4 linked regions of the Homo sapiens genome follow. The protein of the gene in region 4 purifies or fractionates together with the protein of the main gene of each other region. This does not show direct contact. Each region holds a gene or a part of one and is shown on either strand. Other genes may lie near its edges. The genes, in order: WDR36, UQCC1, TAOK2 and CLMN.

Region 1 (4,256 bases), on a different chromosome or scaffold from region 4:
CTCACACTTCTTTGTATAGCATTTTAAAAAGCAAACAAAAATATTTGACCATCCAAATTGTTTTTTTCCAAAGTCCTTTTAAATTCAAAAGGGAAAATAAGATTATTAAAGGTTTGATGTTTTAAATCAGTGTTTCATTACAATTTAACAAATACCATTGACTGCCTACTTTGTGCTAGGTTCAGCAATAGTGACTGAAATACTGTCTTTGCCCATTTACAGAATTTAATACATGATTTAATATTTTAATGATAATTATAATGATTTCAGATACCTCTGTTTGCTCCATGGATGTGTTATTTATCATTCATGACTTGCTTCTGAAATTGAGAGCAGCATTACTGTTGTCATATAACAGTCATATAACATGCAAATAATATTTTTATTAAAATATAAGTTATTCCCTTTCATGATGTTTCTATAAAGATACTGCAGTCCTAAATTTTTTTTACTGTAGCCTGTAATATAACATGATTTTTACACACGTATTTTTTTTTCCACTTAGGACATTTAATTTCTTAATGAGGTGGCATAGCATAGTAGTTAGTTTGAGACCTAGAATTTGTCTGGACAATATTACTAACCTTGTGACATTAGCTTAATCATCAGAATAGTGTGTGGAAGAGTAAGAACTTAATAAATATCACCTATTATTATTTCACTTTTTAATGTGTAGCTGATATTGTTTTCCTCCAAAAAAAAAAAAATACAGCTTTCAACTATTTTTCTTCTTGTAGTAAACTTCTATATACATTTCCAGGATGGAAAGTTGGAGTGACAGCTCTTCAGCAGGTTAGTATTTTTCTGTTAAGTCAAAGAGGAACAAAGTTAATAGGAAAATCCTTCAGTTTCAGGAATCAATCATAATTTTAGACGTAAAGACGAAACAATATATAGCTTAGTTTACCTTTAAAATTGTTAGCCTGAGGAAATAGTGTTTTGGAAATGTAAGTTAAAACAAGTAATAATGCCTTTGCCAATAACACTTATTGGAGTCCTTTGTGCTTATAGTTTGACTTAAATCTGTGGTTGCTATGGATCCTTGTTTCTAATCATTTTGCAAGTATATGTAGTCCATTGTCTTGTGTAGACTGGAAATGAGTGTTCAGCAATGCAAGCGGTATTGTAAGTCATGTAGAGAAATTTGTCAAGATGTTGAGATTTATGGTTTGAAGTAATTGGAGCCAAAATCCTAATGTTTGATTCGATGATGGACTATTTAAGAAATAACTGCTTTTTTTTAATGAATCTGCAAAATATGTATAAATAAATGAATGCATGTCTACAGCGAATCTTGTGTTTATATTGGCCACATATGTAGCCACTATACCCTTATCTTTTTCAGTATCCATTGTCTATACTTGCCCAATTTATATGTATTCCTTATCTTCTCTTGCTGTCATCAGCCTAGCTCCACTTTTGCCTATCCAGAAGACTCCATAAGTATCAGAGGATTAGGACCCTTGAGGACAAGGGATTATATCTGTTTTAGTATCTCCAATTTCTACACAGGGTCTCATGCATAGTAGACACTTGATGACAAATTAATAAAACGTGTAGCCTGATTCCATTCTATAATGATATTGGACATTGATCTTTGCTAAAATAGAGAAATTCATAATAGAGCCTGTATGTAAGACTTGTATTATAGACCATTATAACCATAGAATATTAGAACTGGAACAGACTAATTGTAAAACTTTTTTTGCCTTTTCACATGTTTTGTAGGTTTTTCCTACTTTCTTGGATAAGCAATTCTTCACTTCCTTTGTAATTGGTTACATGTTGCCACACATAGCGCAAGCCTTTATGTTTTCTAGTTGTCTCCTTTTTCTGTTTCCATCCAGTCCAGTGATCTGTAGTGATTTTATACATAGCTTTCTTTTTCTGTTGTGGTTGTTTTCTTTCCAAAATCTTACCAGCTAGGTTTTGGGAATGAGGATGGGATGTTGACTGGCAGAATTGAAGCTGGGAAGTAATTTGGAAAAATCATTACTGAATACTTCTATGCTGAATAAAAAAGTATGCTTGAATGGTAATACTTGCTGAGTTTTTCTGCCATCTTTTAGAAGATACTTCATTATTTCTTTTGATAACACCTAATAATGATGCGTATCATCAGGATTATTAAAGCTATTTTGCTTAAGAAAGTAAAAGTTTGAATAATTTAATTTTTAGGCACCAGCCGTGGATGTTGTTGCTATTGGTCTTATGTCAGGTCAAGTTATCATTCACAACATTAAATTTAATGAAACATTAATGAAGTTTCGTCAAGACTGGGGACCCATTACTTCAATTTCATTTCGCACAGGTAACTTTTAACATACTTATTGATAGGAGTTAAGAACACTTAAAATTCATTACTTTAAAAGTCAATTTTTTTTGTCTTCTGGTAGCTTAATCTAATAGAAGTGAATGAATACTGGAGTAAAAGGCAAAGAAATATGAATAGATTATTGGTATATAGTTTTTTTCTAACTTTATGGATTAAAAGGGAAGAGAGAAGAATTCTTGTTTATTTTGGGGGATCTAGAAGTATTTTTCTTAATGTATTTTATTTTAATAACAGATGGTCATCCAGTAATGGCAGCTGGAAGCCCATGTGGCCATATTGGACTCTGGGATCTAGAAGACAAAAAATTAATCAACCAAATGAGAAATGCACACTCTACAGCAATTGCCGGACTGACATTTCTCCATAGAGAGCCACTTCTTGTCACAAATGGCGCTGACAATGCTCTTAGGGTATTATGATTATTGTTAACATCTTCCTGGCTCATCTAACTTACCCTTTGGGTTATTACAAGCTTGTTTTAATGTATCAGCTTTCAACCTAGAAGATGAAAGGAATATGGAATGAGATATTGGTATAGATGAAACAAAAAGCACAGCAGGTGACATGATTGCAGTGAAGCGGGAAAGAATTACAGTTTATTTCTCCCCCAATACCCACTCCCTCCCTTGTAGCTCCAGAGTCAGTGGCTTAGCAAGCACTACTCAATACCAGTTGATTTATGTAGGGGGTGATTTGACTGCTTGCAGATCAGATGGAACATTGTAGAAGAACTGACGTTTTTATTTCTTGGCAGATATGGATATTTGATGGTCCTACAGGTGAAGGCCGACTTTTGAGATTCAGAATGGGTCATAGTGCTCCTCTTACCAATATCAGATATTATGGACAGAATGGACAGCAGATTCTAAGTGCAAGTGAGCTTCTGCTTCATACTATTAGTTTATTTCAGCAAGTATTGAGATGTGGGTGCCCAGTATGAGGTTTGATATTTACACATACTTAGATTCACATATCTCTTTGAGTGACTTAGAAGTCTGGGTAAAACTAAGAGTCCTTTTTGTCTACTTGAGAAGCACTATAGATGTTATTATCTATGCTTAATGTGTCCTTCTATTTACTAATCCTCAGAGACAGAATGGTTAGATTCTAAAAATTCTGTTAGTCTGCTGAAAATTATTAGTACCTCATTTTCATTTTATCCTTTGTTCTTACTAAATGGCATTCTATAAAAAGTTGAATATTTTAATGAAGTAGTTGCAATCTGGTTTTCCCTTTAAAGTGTCCCAAACTGTAACTTCAAGATTTTCAAATTGAATTTTATAAAATTTGTGATTCACATAGTCCCTTGTTTTAATGAAGCTTGATTAGGGATTTTCTGTGTATATCAACAGGTCAAGATGGAACTCTTCAGTCATTTTCCACGGTACATGAAAAATTCAATAAGAGCTTGGGACATGGTAGGTCCTCTACAAGACAAAATAAGCTGGTCACGAAAGAAACATTTCAACATTCTATGAAACAACTGGAGGAAGTTTCATCAATGCATTTTATTTTTTCTTGGATGAACTAGATAAACATGTATGGAAGAGGTAGTAAGATTCCTAGCATCAAAGTTGCTATAGAAGTGATTGAGGTTCTGCTATAAGGTTATTGAAAAAAGTTAGACATCTTGGGTGGTAAAAACATACTGCTGCCACCCAAAAGATGTTCATGGCCTCACTTGAGCTATCTGTAGAGTGCACAGTTTTTAAAATGGAAGGTAGCTTAGAGAAAGCATCAAAGTAAGTGGCATCCAATATTTTTGCTTTAAAGCAATCATTTATTCTCTTTCCCTTTTCATGGTTTCCAGCCTTTGAAAGATTTTGTTTATTAAACAACAAAATCTTACTTGGTTTTATGATTACTAATTTTTAAGTTACTATCTTATACTGTTCATGCATGTATATAAATTTTAAGATTA
Region 2 (4,256 bases), on a different chromosome or scaffold from region 4:
TTCACAAATATAGAATCTGTGAATAACGAAAATCAATTATAAACATGAAATCCACCTTTTTTTTTTTTTTTTTTTTGAGACAGAGTTTCACTCTTGTTGCCCAGACTGGAGTGCAATGACGCAATCTCAGCTCACCGCAACCTCTGCCTCCTGGGTTCAAGTGATTCTCCTGCCTCAGCCTCCCGAGCAGCTGGGATTACAGGTATGCGCCACCACGCCCAGCTAATTTTGTATTTTTAGTAGAGACGGGGTTTCTCCATGTTGGTCAGGCTGGTCTCGAACTCCCAACCTCAGGTGATCCCTCAGCCTCAGCCTCCCAAAGTGCTGGGATTACAGGCATGAGCCACCATGCCCAGCCGAAATCCACTTTATAAGTCACCACTGGTGCCTATATTCCAAATGCCATGGATACTAACTCAATTCCGGAGTCCAAAGAACAGATACTACGGTAACAAACTTTCCTTCCAGTTACAATGTGGCATGCTATAATACAAAAGGATATTTCCACAGAGGGAAGAAGAGAATGTTTAACCATTCCTTCAAAAATTACTGAATACAGGCCGGGCATAGTGGCTCACGCCTGTAATCCCAACACTTTGTGAGGCTGAGGTGGGTGGATCACTTGAGGTCAGGAGTTCGAGACCAGCCTGGCCAACACAGTGAAACCCGTCTGTACTAAAAAATACATAATATAGGCCGGGCGCGGTGGCTTACGCCTGTAATCCCAGCACTCTGGGAGGCCGAGGCAGGCAGATCACGAGGTCAGGAGATTGAAACCATCCTGGCTAACATGGTGAAACCCCGTCTCTACTAAAAATACAAAAAATTAGCCGGGTGTGGTGGTGGGCGCCTGTAGTCCCAGCTACTCGGGAGGCTGAGGCAGGAGAATGGCGTGAACCTGGGAGGCGGAGCTTGCAGTGAGCTGAGATCGCACCACTGCACTCTAGCCTGGGCGACAGAGCGAGACTCCATCTCAAAAAACAAACAAACAAACAAACAAACAAACAAACAAAATATATATATATATATAATATATATAAATTAGCCGGGCATGGTGGCGCATGCTGGTAATCCCAGCTACTCAGGAGGCTGAGGCACAAGGATCGCTTGAACCCGGGAGGCGGAGGTTGCAGTAGGCAGAGATCATGCTGCTGTACTCCAGCCTGGGTGACAGAGTGAGACCCCATCTCAAACAATAACAAAAAATTACTCCAGTACTTTGGGAGGCCGAGGCAGGCGGACTGCCTGAGCTCAGGAGTTTGCAACCAGCCTGGGCAACACAGTGAAACCCCATCTCTACTAAAATACAAAAAAATTAGCTGGGCATGAGGGCATGCACCTGCAGTCCCAGCTACTTGGGAGGCTGAGGCAGGAGAATTGCTTGAACCCGGGAGGCGGAGGTTGCAGTGACCTGAGATCGCGCCATTGCACTCCAGCCTAGGGGACAAGAGCGAGACTTCGTCTCAAAAAAAAAAAAAAAAATTACCTATACACTGCCTCCTCCCACTTTTTTGGGAGTTTTCAATCTGAGCTTTCAAAAGATTGATTACATACAGGAAAGATTTGAATAAATCAATAAATACATTAAGGGTGAGGGGTCAGGTTTCTATCAGAGAAAGGAGTTAACAAATATGGCAAGGCAAAAGAGTAGAACAAACCCTGTGGTATTAGAATAGATTAGAATAACTGGTGTGGGCTTTTAATATATAAAGAAAAAGATATATGCATGTTTATGTGTATATATAGACATATATATATTTCCTACCCACGTCCTGGTAGGGCCTGCAGATGACACTCCAGTAGCAATAAGCACATGTAGCACCCAGATGTGGTTTCTAAATAGCAACAACCACTAAAGGAACTAGTCTCCTCAGGAGACAAGTTGACTCCAGAATGGGGATGATGTTCATCAAAGCCTTACAAAGAACTGGCATTATTCCCAGACATCCCATTACTGGGTATATGCCCGAAGGATTATAAATCATGCTGCTATAAAGACACACACACACGTATGTTTACTGAGGCACTATTCACAATAGCAAAGACTTGGAACCAACCCAAATGCCCAACAATGATAGACTGGATTAAGAAAATGTGGCACATATACACCATGGAATACTATGCAGCCATAAAAAAGGATGAGTTCATATCCTTTGTAGGGACATGGATGAAGCTGGAAACCATCATTCTCAGCAAACTATCACAAGGACAGAAAACCAAACACTGCATGTTCTCACTCAGAGGTGGGAATTGAACAATGAGAACACTTGGACACAGGAAGGGGAACATCACACACCAGGGCCTGTCGTGGGGTGGGGGGAGCGGGGAGGGATAGCATTAAGAGATATACCTAGGCCGGGCGTGGTGGCTCATGCCTGTAATCCAAGCACTTTGGGAGGCCGAGGAGGGCGGATCACAAGGTCAGGAGATCGAGACCATCCTGGCTAACATGGTGAAACCCCATCTCTACTAAAAATACAAAAAATTAGCCAGGCGTGGCCGGGCGCAGTGGCTCACGCTTGTAATCCCAGCACTTTGGGAAGCCGAGGCGGGCGGATCACGAGGTCAGGAGATCGAGACCACGGTGAAATGCCGTCTCTACTAAAAATACAAAAAATTAGCCAGGCGTGGTGGCGGGTGCCTGTAGTCCCAGCTACTCGGAGAGGCTGAGGCAGGAGAATGGCGTGAACCCAGGAGGCGGAGTTTGCAGTGAGCCGAGATTGCACCACTGCACTCCAGCCTGGGTGACAGAGCGAGACTCCGTCTCAAAAAAAAAAAAAAAACAAAATTAGCCGGGCATGGTGGCAGGCGCCTGTAGTCCCAGCTACTCGGGAGGCTGAGGCAGGAGAATGGCGTGAACCCGGGAGGTGGAGCTTGCAGTGAGCTGAGATTGCGCCAGTGCACTCCAGCCTGGGTGACAAAGCAAGACTCCATCTCAAAAAAAAAAGAGATATACCTAATGTAAATGATGAGTTAATGGGTGCAGCACACCATCATGGCACATGTATACATATGTAACAAACCTGCACGTTGTGCACATGTACCCTAGAACTTAAAGTATAAAAAAAAAAGAAGCTTGACTCTGAAAAAAAAAAAAAAAAAGAACTGGCATTATTCAACCTGTCTGACAGTTCCTTAGAAGGCCCTATTTCAAGGCTGTCTTAGAACTCACCCAGTGTGAAAAAACCTTTTCCCCAGGAGCACCGGTTGAAAACAAATAGAGGTAACTGTTTGACTTCATGGCTTCCTGAGGCAGTGATTAACAGGTGGAGAAAACAACAGGCTAACCAAAAAGGTTTAAAGGAAAAGCTGGGGAATAAGATGTCCACAGAGGCTTAGAAAAGCCCCAATATATTCCTGGGCATCTAGGAAGCCATGAACATACCCAGGTCTGTGCATATACCCAAAGCTGTGCACATGCTCAGGAAAGACCTAAGAATGTCTCTTACTTGTGGTTGACCTTGAGGTTCTGCATAGCAGGAAGTGAAAGTTAAGGCAGAGTTATCGAATGCCTGGCAGAGTGTTATAGGTACATCCCAACGTGCACACAGAGCCCCAAAGCAAAAACTGGGATACTCACTGCTTCCAGGCAGTGAGAACAGAATTTTAAGAAATTTAACAGAAATTTAAAGAAATTTGTTTAATCATTACCTGACCACTAAGCTATCTAAGCAGAGACTTCAGTAGCCACAAACAACAAAGAATACAGACTACAGAATCAATTCAGAAAAGTCACTAAACAAAAATACAACAGCAAACCCTGGGAAGGGAAACAATCTGATTTCCGGAGTGGCCACATTATTTAAAATGTCCAGTTTTCAACAACAAAAAGTTATAAAACATGCAAAGAAACAATAAAGTATGGCCCATACACAGGGGGAAAAAATGCAATCAATAGAAACTGTCTCTAAGAAAACCCAGGCAGCAGACAAAGAGATTTTTAACTATTTCAAATATGTTCAAAGATCTAAATGAAAATATGTCTAAAGAACTATAAGAAAGTGGCCGGGTGCGGTGGCTTACACCTGTAATCCCAGCACTTTGGGAGGCCAAGGCAGGGGGATCACCTGAGGTCAGGAGTTTGAGACCATCCTGGCCAACATGGTGAAACCCCATCTCTACTAAAAATACAAAAATTAGCCGGGCGTGGTGGCAGGCACCTGTAATCCCAGCTACTCAGAAGGCTGAGGCGGGAGAATCGCTTGAACCCGGGAGGTGGAGGTTGCAGTGAGCCAAGATGGCACCAAAGAGAATAT
Region 3 (4,256 bases), on a different chromosome or scaffold from region 4:
TTTCATCAACTGTCTGGGCCTGGCATCTAATGGTAAATGGAGACTGTGAAGATGGAGGAGAAGGGCTCGTCCAAATCTCTGACCTCGGGCAGAGGACCCAATACGAACCAAGGCAAGGAAGTGGAAGAGTTCATGACACACTCAGAGGGTGGAGCCCATGAAGGAAAGGGCCAGCATTTACGAAGCAAAGCCTCTAGGTTGGTGGGAGGAAGGATGGGGATGGCTTCAGTCTTGAAGGCAACAGGGGGCCACTCATGGCTCCAAACAGGGAGTGAAATGACAGCACTGAGCTTAGGCAGACCTCTCTGGCATCAGTACTTAAGACAGACTGGAAGGGAGAAGAGACTGGAGAGATCACTGCAGGAGGCTGTTGATAAGAGAAACTAACAGCAACTCTTAGGCAACTGTTTTGTGCCTGGCATTGTGTTGGAAGCCTTATAAAGGTTACCTACCTCATTAAAGAATTGTTTCAATAGTGCTGGCTGACAGAGATGAGAACCTTGGCATGGCTTCAAGGCCTTAGGAACTCACTTGGACCTAACTCTCTGGCCTTATCCTTCAATATTCTCTGCATTACATGCTAGGTTCCAAATAACTGAAGCTAGTCCCAGTTCCCCAGGCCTGCACTTACCTCTAGGCCTCTCACATGCTGTTCTCTCTGCCTGGAAAGCTCTTCCCTACATTCTGCAAACAGCTATTATTTATCTTGCAGGTTGGCTTCAATATTCTCCTACAAGGAGGCCTTCTTCAGCCCCTAAACTAGGTCAAGTCCCCTGTTTTACATTTGAACCGCTCCTGTAACTTCTCCACACAGCGTTCATCACATTGAAAGAAAACATGCCTGCCTGGTTTCCCTAAATCAAATGTAAGTTCCATGAGGGCAGGATTTTCATTCACTGCTATCCCTCCAGAATCACAGTCCATGGCACAGCACATGGTGGGCACTAAGAAAAGATTCAGAACCAGGGTAGTGGACAGGAAGAGATGAATGCTACAAAATCTCTAGGCCTAAGAGCTGGCAGAATTTGCCAGCTGCCTGTATTGGGCTCCAGGGTAGAGTCACAACGGACAGGAACTTGGAGGCCTGGGATCCCATCCCTAGGAGAAGGGGGTAGTCCGGAGTCTGGGAACTAACAGGAAAGAATGGAAAAGATGATGAGGGAACAGGGAGGATGTTCTTACCCAGCTCGATGCAGGTTATCCCCAAGGACCAGACGTCCACTTTGCCATCGTACTGCCCCTCATCCATGGCCAGGATCACCTCGGGTGCCATCCTAGGAGAATGGTCAGGAGAGAGAGGCAAATCACCCGCCGAGACCCTGTCACTCCTACTCCCAACATCCCTGGGAGGTCTCTCCACTCACCACCACTCACTCACTCACCAGTATGGGGTGCCCACGAAGGAGTTGGCAGGTGCCATGATGGACGCAGAACCAAAGTCCCCTAGCTTCACTAACCCTGGCTCTGACAGCAGGATGTTTCCAGCCTTCACATCCCTGCCAGAGGCAAAGTACAGGGATGAGACATGTGTCTCAAGAAAGCTAGGCAGGGGCAGCCCAGCTAAGTGACAGGTGGTGCAGATAGCACTCCCCTCCCAGGCACTGCCGGTGCTGCTTGTACCTATGGATCATGTTGTGGGAGTGCAGATATGCCAGGCCCTGAAGCGCCCCGTGGGTCACAGCTGCGATCTCTACCTCCTGAAGGGGTTTCTTGTGCACTGGAGAGTGAGGAAGAACATCAACCCGAGGGAGCGCAAGGGTGGGACTGGAATAAACTCCCCTTAACCCTTCCCTATGGCTCCCCTGCTCTTCTCCCTTCTCCACTTATTGGCCTATCAGTCACTTACCTTCTAGAAGGTCAGAAGCTGAGCCCAGGCAATACTCCATTACCAGCTAAGGAAGAGACAAGGGTCAGAGATCAGAGTCTCCTGGGCAGGGACTCAAAACAGAGCTTCCTTGACTGTCCTGTACTCAAGCTATGTCCCCGGGGTGATGACAGGGAGGAAGCGCAACTGGAGACAATGAGGGGGTGGTGGGAGAGTTTCTAGAGTCTGGGCCCAAGACATTCACCACTGCCCATCTGAATCCCTTCAAACTCCCATTCAATCTCCACCTTCTCCAGCCCACAGTGACCTGTCCCACCTGCTAACAGCCTGTGTCACTGAGCCAGGCTTTTGCTCAGTGGGTATGTCTGAGGACTAAAGCGGTCAAAAGAGACTTCCTCCTTCCCAAGATCCCACAACAGCACCACGAACAGGGACCACCTAAGAGACTGGACTACGATAAGGACGGGCATGAATAGGAGTAAAGATCAGGCCAGAATCTGGCACCAGCTCACCCAAGCCGTGTGCTCCCTCAGGTAACAGCCCCGGTACTGAATGGTGTTGGGATGCCGGAGCTTCTGTAAGAACCGCACCTCCTTGATGATGTCTTGCCATTTCTAGGGGGTCAGGGTAGGCAGAGGTTACCCAGCTTGCATCTTGAGACAGGAGTCCCCTGTCCCCAACCTGGCTGTATTGCACCTGGCCCACCTCATTGGACTGCTTCCCACTGTAGGACATCTTCTTGATGGCCACCACCTCACTATTCCGGACATCCCGGGCCTAGAGGACCAGACCAGAAGGTGTTGAAGGCCCCATTGAGAGCCGGGCATGGGAAGACTTGCTGGCCCAGCAAGAGAAGGCAGGAAAGACCAGTGTGATGGAGTAGTGTGCAAGGGCTGTTGGGAAGTCCACAGGGATAGGAAGAGTCCCCATCCCTATTACACCCTCCCAAGACCCAACTCACAAAGTATACGGCTCCAAAGCTGCCATGGCCAATTTCCCGGAGGTCAGAGAAGAGCTTTTCTGGGTCATCCTTGAAGAAGAGCTCAGCCACATCTGGGTCCTTCAGGCTCCCGGCCCGGCCCCCAGCTGGCATGGTGGCCCCTGGGGGCCCTGAGAGTGGGGCCTGGCCTGAGGAATGGAAATGGGACCCTTAGAGATCAAGGATTGAGCCTTCAGGGAGAGGAAGGGACCCATCAAGTTTCTGCCATCTCCTCCCCTCATTCCCTGATGAGGAGGAGGCACTGCTGAGGAAGGGGAGGGGGAGATTAGGAACAACATCAAAGCTCCAAAAAATGAAGTTGCCCTGGCAACCAGATCACGCGGGCTGGGTCCCTGGAGTCCCTAAAACTGCTAGGAAGATTCTGGGAAGCTAAGTATCCTCACCACCCCCTTCAGTGCTCAACAAGTTCTCATTTCCCTATAGCCCCTGTATCTCCCCTCAAGGATAAAACATTCTGCTTCCCAGCCAGCACTCCAGAGCCCCAAGTGTCCTGTCCCATAAGTCCTATACCCCAACTGTTTCCAGGCACCTTTCTGTTCCCCTTGGCGCTGAGGCCCCCTCCTCCCTCAACCTCTCACACCCTGGAAGAGAACAGGAAATGGCCAGGCCGGAGGCGGTGGAAATCCGTCCATTGTTAGAAGTGGGTACTGGCCCAGAGGAGCCCGCAAAGTCACTCTCAAAAAAGTCAGGGGGAGATCTAGAATGGGAAGAATAGGGATATAAATGGCATCTGGCTATGAGGGCCTCTCTGTGCTCTGGGCCACCTTACTTGTCCTGTCCAACTGCATAAGCATCACACACAGGTACAGGACATTTGCAGGGTACAAATAACATTTACTGAGTACCTTACGTGCATTATCTCTATTCAGTCCTCACTACAACCTTATGAAGCAAGTACTATGATTTCCCCTATCTTACAGATAAAGAAACAGGCTCAGCAAGGTTAAGTGCCTTGTCCAAAGCTGGTCCTCCATCACTATGATTTCAGAGCAGCCCTTCGAAACAGGCAGGGCAGAATCATGATCACCATTTCCTAGGTGAGGTCACTGAGGCACAGAGAAGAAAAAGGACTTCTCCAAGGTCAGAGAACAGGACCTTCGGCTCCCCGGTTAGGCCTGTATCCATTACTCTCTCAGCTGTCACCCCAAGCTCAGCTCCCCTCTTGCAGGAAGCCTGTCCTGACCACTCCAGCCATTGGGAAGAGCACCTAGGGCACCCAACCAAACACCCGGAGAAAGTTCCTGCAGGATACCAGAACCAAAACCCTCAAGGAGATTCCAAGACAGGCTCCAGCCTAAGCACTTGTCAGAATTTAGGCACAAAGGAGCCTTCAGCAGAGCTGGACTCCTGGGGCAGAGTTCTAGCTACTCAAAAGCACCTAACAATTTTAGCATGTAATTTATTCTGTCATGCATTGTTTCCTGTTGTGTT
Region 4 (3,500 bases):
TTTTGTTTTGTTTTTTGTTTGAGGGGAGATAACACTTGAAATTCAGTTTTCCATTGATTGGATTGAGATAGAACCATGATTTTCAAACCAGATCGCCAGGGCCCAGCAGGGCCATATAAAAGCCATGAGGAGTGGCTGGGCTGGAATCAGCTCCCAGCAGTGCTGGAGCTGGGTGGTGGGGTAGCTTCCTGCCCACTAAAGCTTTGGTGCACACCTCCCTCAGAATGCATGTCTTGGAACGGGCATTCTTTGTGGTCACTTGTAATGGGTTTCTTGAAGAGGCTTTCTGGACAGCACTCCGGGAGCAGGCCAGCACAGGAGGTTTGTGAAAGAAGAGAGGCATCTCTAGCACCCCTGCCCCCAGTCTTCCTCAGCCCCAGGCTCCCTCTGCTCTCTCCTCCCTGCCAAGACTCAGGTCCGTGGTGAGTCTCTGCATTGGTTCCTCCTCCCCTTGCTCTCCCCTTCAGAAAGCATGTACCAGGCAACCCTTATAAAATCACAAATGAGTCAGGAGGGGACTCAGTGAGCATCTTGTCTAGCTGGACCCAGAGAGACAGAGCAGCTTGACCAAGATCATATAGCCGACCAGGGGCAGACTTGCAGTGAGCACACAGGCACCTGATGCCCTGTCCAGAGCTGTCACCCCTTGTAGGAAACTTCCACTGGGCACACCAATGTCCTGAGAAAAAGATAAAATGACTAGATTAAAATGTCCACATTCAAGCAAAACCAAAAAGTTTAGACCAACTATCGACATTTGTTTTGTTCTTGTATTTTTCCCATGAGGAATTCTTACTCACCTTCAAGCTCATCCCCAATTCCTTCTGAAATACCCTTGACAGCTGCAACAGCTTGTCATTTGACATACCAGCGTCGCTCTTACTCCAGGAATCACGTTTCTTTCTTTGCTAGCCAAGGACTTGCTCATTTCAAGCAGTGGGTTTCAAGTTTACAGAATTCCAGCATGGCCAGAAGAATTTACATAGCACATCTGAGTCGATGACAGCCAAAATCTGGCCTCTAAACCAGTCTGATTATAGTCTGTCTCCCCTCCTGAAAGAATTTCAGCCTTCCAACCAGAAAGCTGCTGGGAGCTTGGAGTGATTCCATCTGGAAGGCCAAGAGCCCCATGGAAAATGAGCTAATTAATGAGCTCCCTGGCATCAATGAAAGCTCAAAGGTACAGATAATAAAGATTATGTGATAGTTTATAACTCTGGGCACCATGCAGTCCTTGCCTAAATTAGATGCTCGAAGAGCCTGGGAAGAGCCAACCCAAATGTGAATCATTTCATTTTATGGGTCTAGACCTTGTTCAGAAAAACCTCTGCAAGATACTTCTCTCACCTATTACAACTTGTAATATTGTTTAAAACATCTACTGGCAAGATGCCTGAAAGTCATTTGGTTCAGGTTGGCAGTCAACTGATATTTTGCAAAGGAAAAAAAAATCTCATTTGAGTATAGGCTTCTATGGAAGAAGCTGGATATAGAAAATGGATGTGGAAGTCTGCAGGACAAACCACCCCATTGCTTGTAAATTTTTTTTAAATTAAAAGAAATACAATAAGGCTTTTAACAAGAACTAGCAGTCCCCTAAGTCTCGCTGCTTAGAAGTAACCACTTTCAACTCTCTTATGTTTGCATTTCTACATAACGTGCTTACACTTTATTTTTTAATTTAGAAACATCTACTGGCTTGCTGTCACAGTAGAGGAGGATTTCACTCTTACCATACCGTGCTTTGGTTTTCCAGTATAGCTAGATCACATCATTTAGTACATTTCTATTAGGTGTTGACATTACCTGGAGCACTTAAGGATTGTTGACTCCCAAGCCCAGCAGTGTGTTATGGTTACATGTCCTTTCTCCTCCAAATGTCCCCATTAATTTGCTATTCTCTCTCTTTACTTTTTTTTTTTTTTTGGTGTGGCACATTCTTTAATAACTTCCTGAGGAAGAGAACATGGGAAGTAAATATGGTTGTAAATATTTTGAGATTTTTGCATGACTTAAGATGTCTGTATTCTGCCCTTAACAGAAATGTGGCTGAGCATAGAATGACAGGTGGAAAATAATACCCTCCCCTAGCCCCTCCCAAGCGTGCTGGTTGAGATTTCTGATGCCATTCTGATTCCCGTACCTTTATATGTGACTTAGGTTTTTTTATCCACCCTTCCTGGAAACATTTAAGATCTCTTTATTCTTGGTGTTCTGAACTGTCATGATGGTGTTGTATCCCGGGTGTTAAACCTTGTGCTGGGCCTTCATGGGAAATTTCTTAAATTTTCTTGTGATTATTTACATTCTTTCTTTCTGGACCACCTATTATTTCAATGTTGGACCCTCCCCTACACCCAGGCTGATGCTCTAATATTTTTTATCTTTTCTATTTTTCGTCTATGTTTCTGATCTGCTTTCAGGAAGAATTATTCATTTTTATCTTCCCAATCTGAATGTTTTATTGAATTTTTATTTTCCAAGTTAATAAAACCTTTGGTTATTATCCTGTCTTTGTTTTACAGTGTCCTGCTCTTGATGCGTGGATGCAGATTTTGTCTCTCTGTGGACGTTAATGATTGTGGTCTGAGGGGAAGTCTTTTCTGCTCCCTGTGTTGCCCTCATTTTCTCTGAGTTCTCTTTATTTTGGTGGTCTCAGTCTCTATCTTTCACGTTGTGAATTTTTCTCAAATATATGGTGATCCTATGGATCTGTTCATGTTTTAAGAGTGAGGCATCCAAAAGCTGATTGGAAGTTGTGTGTGCCAACTGGTGAGCTTTTCCACTAGGGTCACCAGGTGGGCACCTGGACTCATCATTGGAGAACACTGCCTGTCAGTATTTGCACGTGTTTTCTCTGGGGCTCATTCTGTTTCTTGAGAGATATTCCCACTACTCTCCTTCCTGGGAAACGGGCATACACAGGGCTTTTAGCCTATGCTGAGTACTCATGTGGTTTCAAAAATGGTGTCCCATCTGGGCAGAAGTCCCCATGAGCACTTGGCTTGACTGGCAAAGGACACCTTTTGCCCCTTCCTCCAGACATACCCAGCTCTGAGCTTGGACAATGCTCGAGGAACAATGAAAAGGCTAGATTTTAACTCCTAATTGCCCTCTTTAGCCAAGTGCCTCTGTGCAATGCACAACTGTAGGACCATATCCAGAGACCCTGGTCTATACTCAGTGTGCCCGAGTCCTGACCGCTGAGCAGGCAGCCTCATCACCCGTGAGTATTTAGACTTTCATTAAGTTGCTTCAACCTTTGCTGTGCCTGGTGTCCCTGAGTTGGAGCTGCTCTGATTTCTCCATGGAGTAGGAGCACAGTGGTCATCTGGCTGCATGGGAAGGACAGGGGACCTCAGAGCCAATAAATGCCCTGGTCTTCAGCCCCATGTCTCACCCCATCCCTCCTATTCCAATCCCCAAGCCTCTCCTGGAGGCCACAGGGCATCTCTGCTGACCACTCTGTGGCCTCCCCTCTGCAGGCATGTGGTTTTAGG

The links.
Region 1: the proteins of CLMN (region 4) and WDR36 purify together in Homo sapiens (affinity purification with mass spectrometry; one large-scale study listed by BioGRID and IntAct). This does not show direct contact.
Region 2: the proteins of CLMN (region 4) and UQCC1 purify together in Homo sapiens (affinity purification with mass spectrometry; one large-scale study listed by BioGRID and IntAct). This does not show direct contact.
Region 3: the proteins of CLMN (region 4) and TAOK2 purify together in Homo sapiens (affinity purification with mass spectrometry; one large-scale study listed by BioGRID and IntAct). This does not show direct contact.

What each region holds. Positions count from the first base shown.
Region 1 is NC_000005.10:111,101,608-111,105,863, forward strand, and holds part of WDR36 (WD repeat-containing protein 36), read left to right. Parts: intron 1-737; coding exon 738-792; intron 793-2,178; coding exon 2,179-2,311; intron 2,312-2,569; coding exon 2,570-2,745; intron 2,746-3,089; coding exon 3,090-3,210; intron 3,211-3,687; coding exon 3,688-3,753; intron 3,754-4,256. UniProt on the Homo sapiens protein: Part of the small subunit (SSU) processome, first precursor of the small eukaryotic ribosomal subunit.
Region 2 is NC_000020.11:35,401,603-35,405,858, forward strand, and holds part of UQCC1 (ubiquinol-cytochrome c reductase complex assembly factor 1), read right to left. Parts: intron 1-4,256. UniProt on the Homo sapiens protein: Required for the assembly of the ubiquinol-cytochrome c reductase complex (mitochondrial respiratory chain complex III or cytochrome b-c1 complex). Involved in cytochrome b translation and/or stability.
Region 3 is NC_000016.10:29,976,435-29,980,690, reverse strand, and holds part of TAOK2 (serine/threonine-protein kinase TAO2), read right to left. Parts: intron 2,954-4,256; 5' UTR 2,919-2,953; coding exon 2,787-2,918; intron 2,603-2,786; coding exon 2,531-2,602; intron 2,440-2,530; coding exon 2,338-2,439; intron 1,893-2,337; coding exon 1,847-1,892; intron 1,718-1,846; coding exon 1,621-1,717; intron 1,497-1,620; coding exon 1,383-1,496; intron 1,275-1,382; coding exon 1,183-1,274; intron 1-1,182. UniProt on the Homo sapiens protein: Serine/threonine-protein kinase involved in different processes such as membrane blebbing and apoptotic bodies formation DNA damage response and MAPK14/p38 MAPK stress-activated MAPK cascade.
Region 4 is NC_000014.9:95,187,409-95,190,908, reverse strand, and holds part of CLMN (calmin), read left to right. Parts: 3' UTR 1-3,500.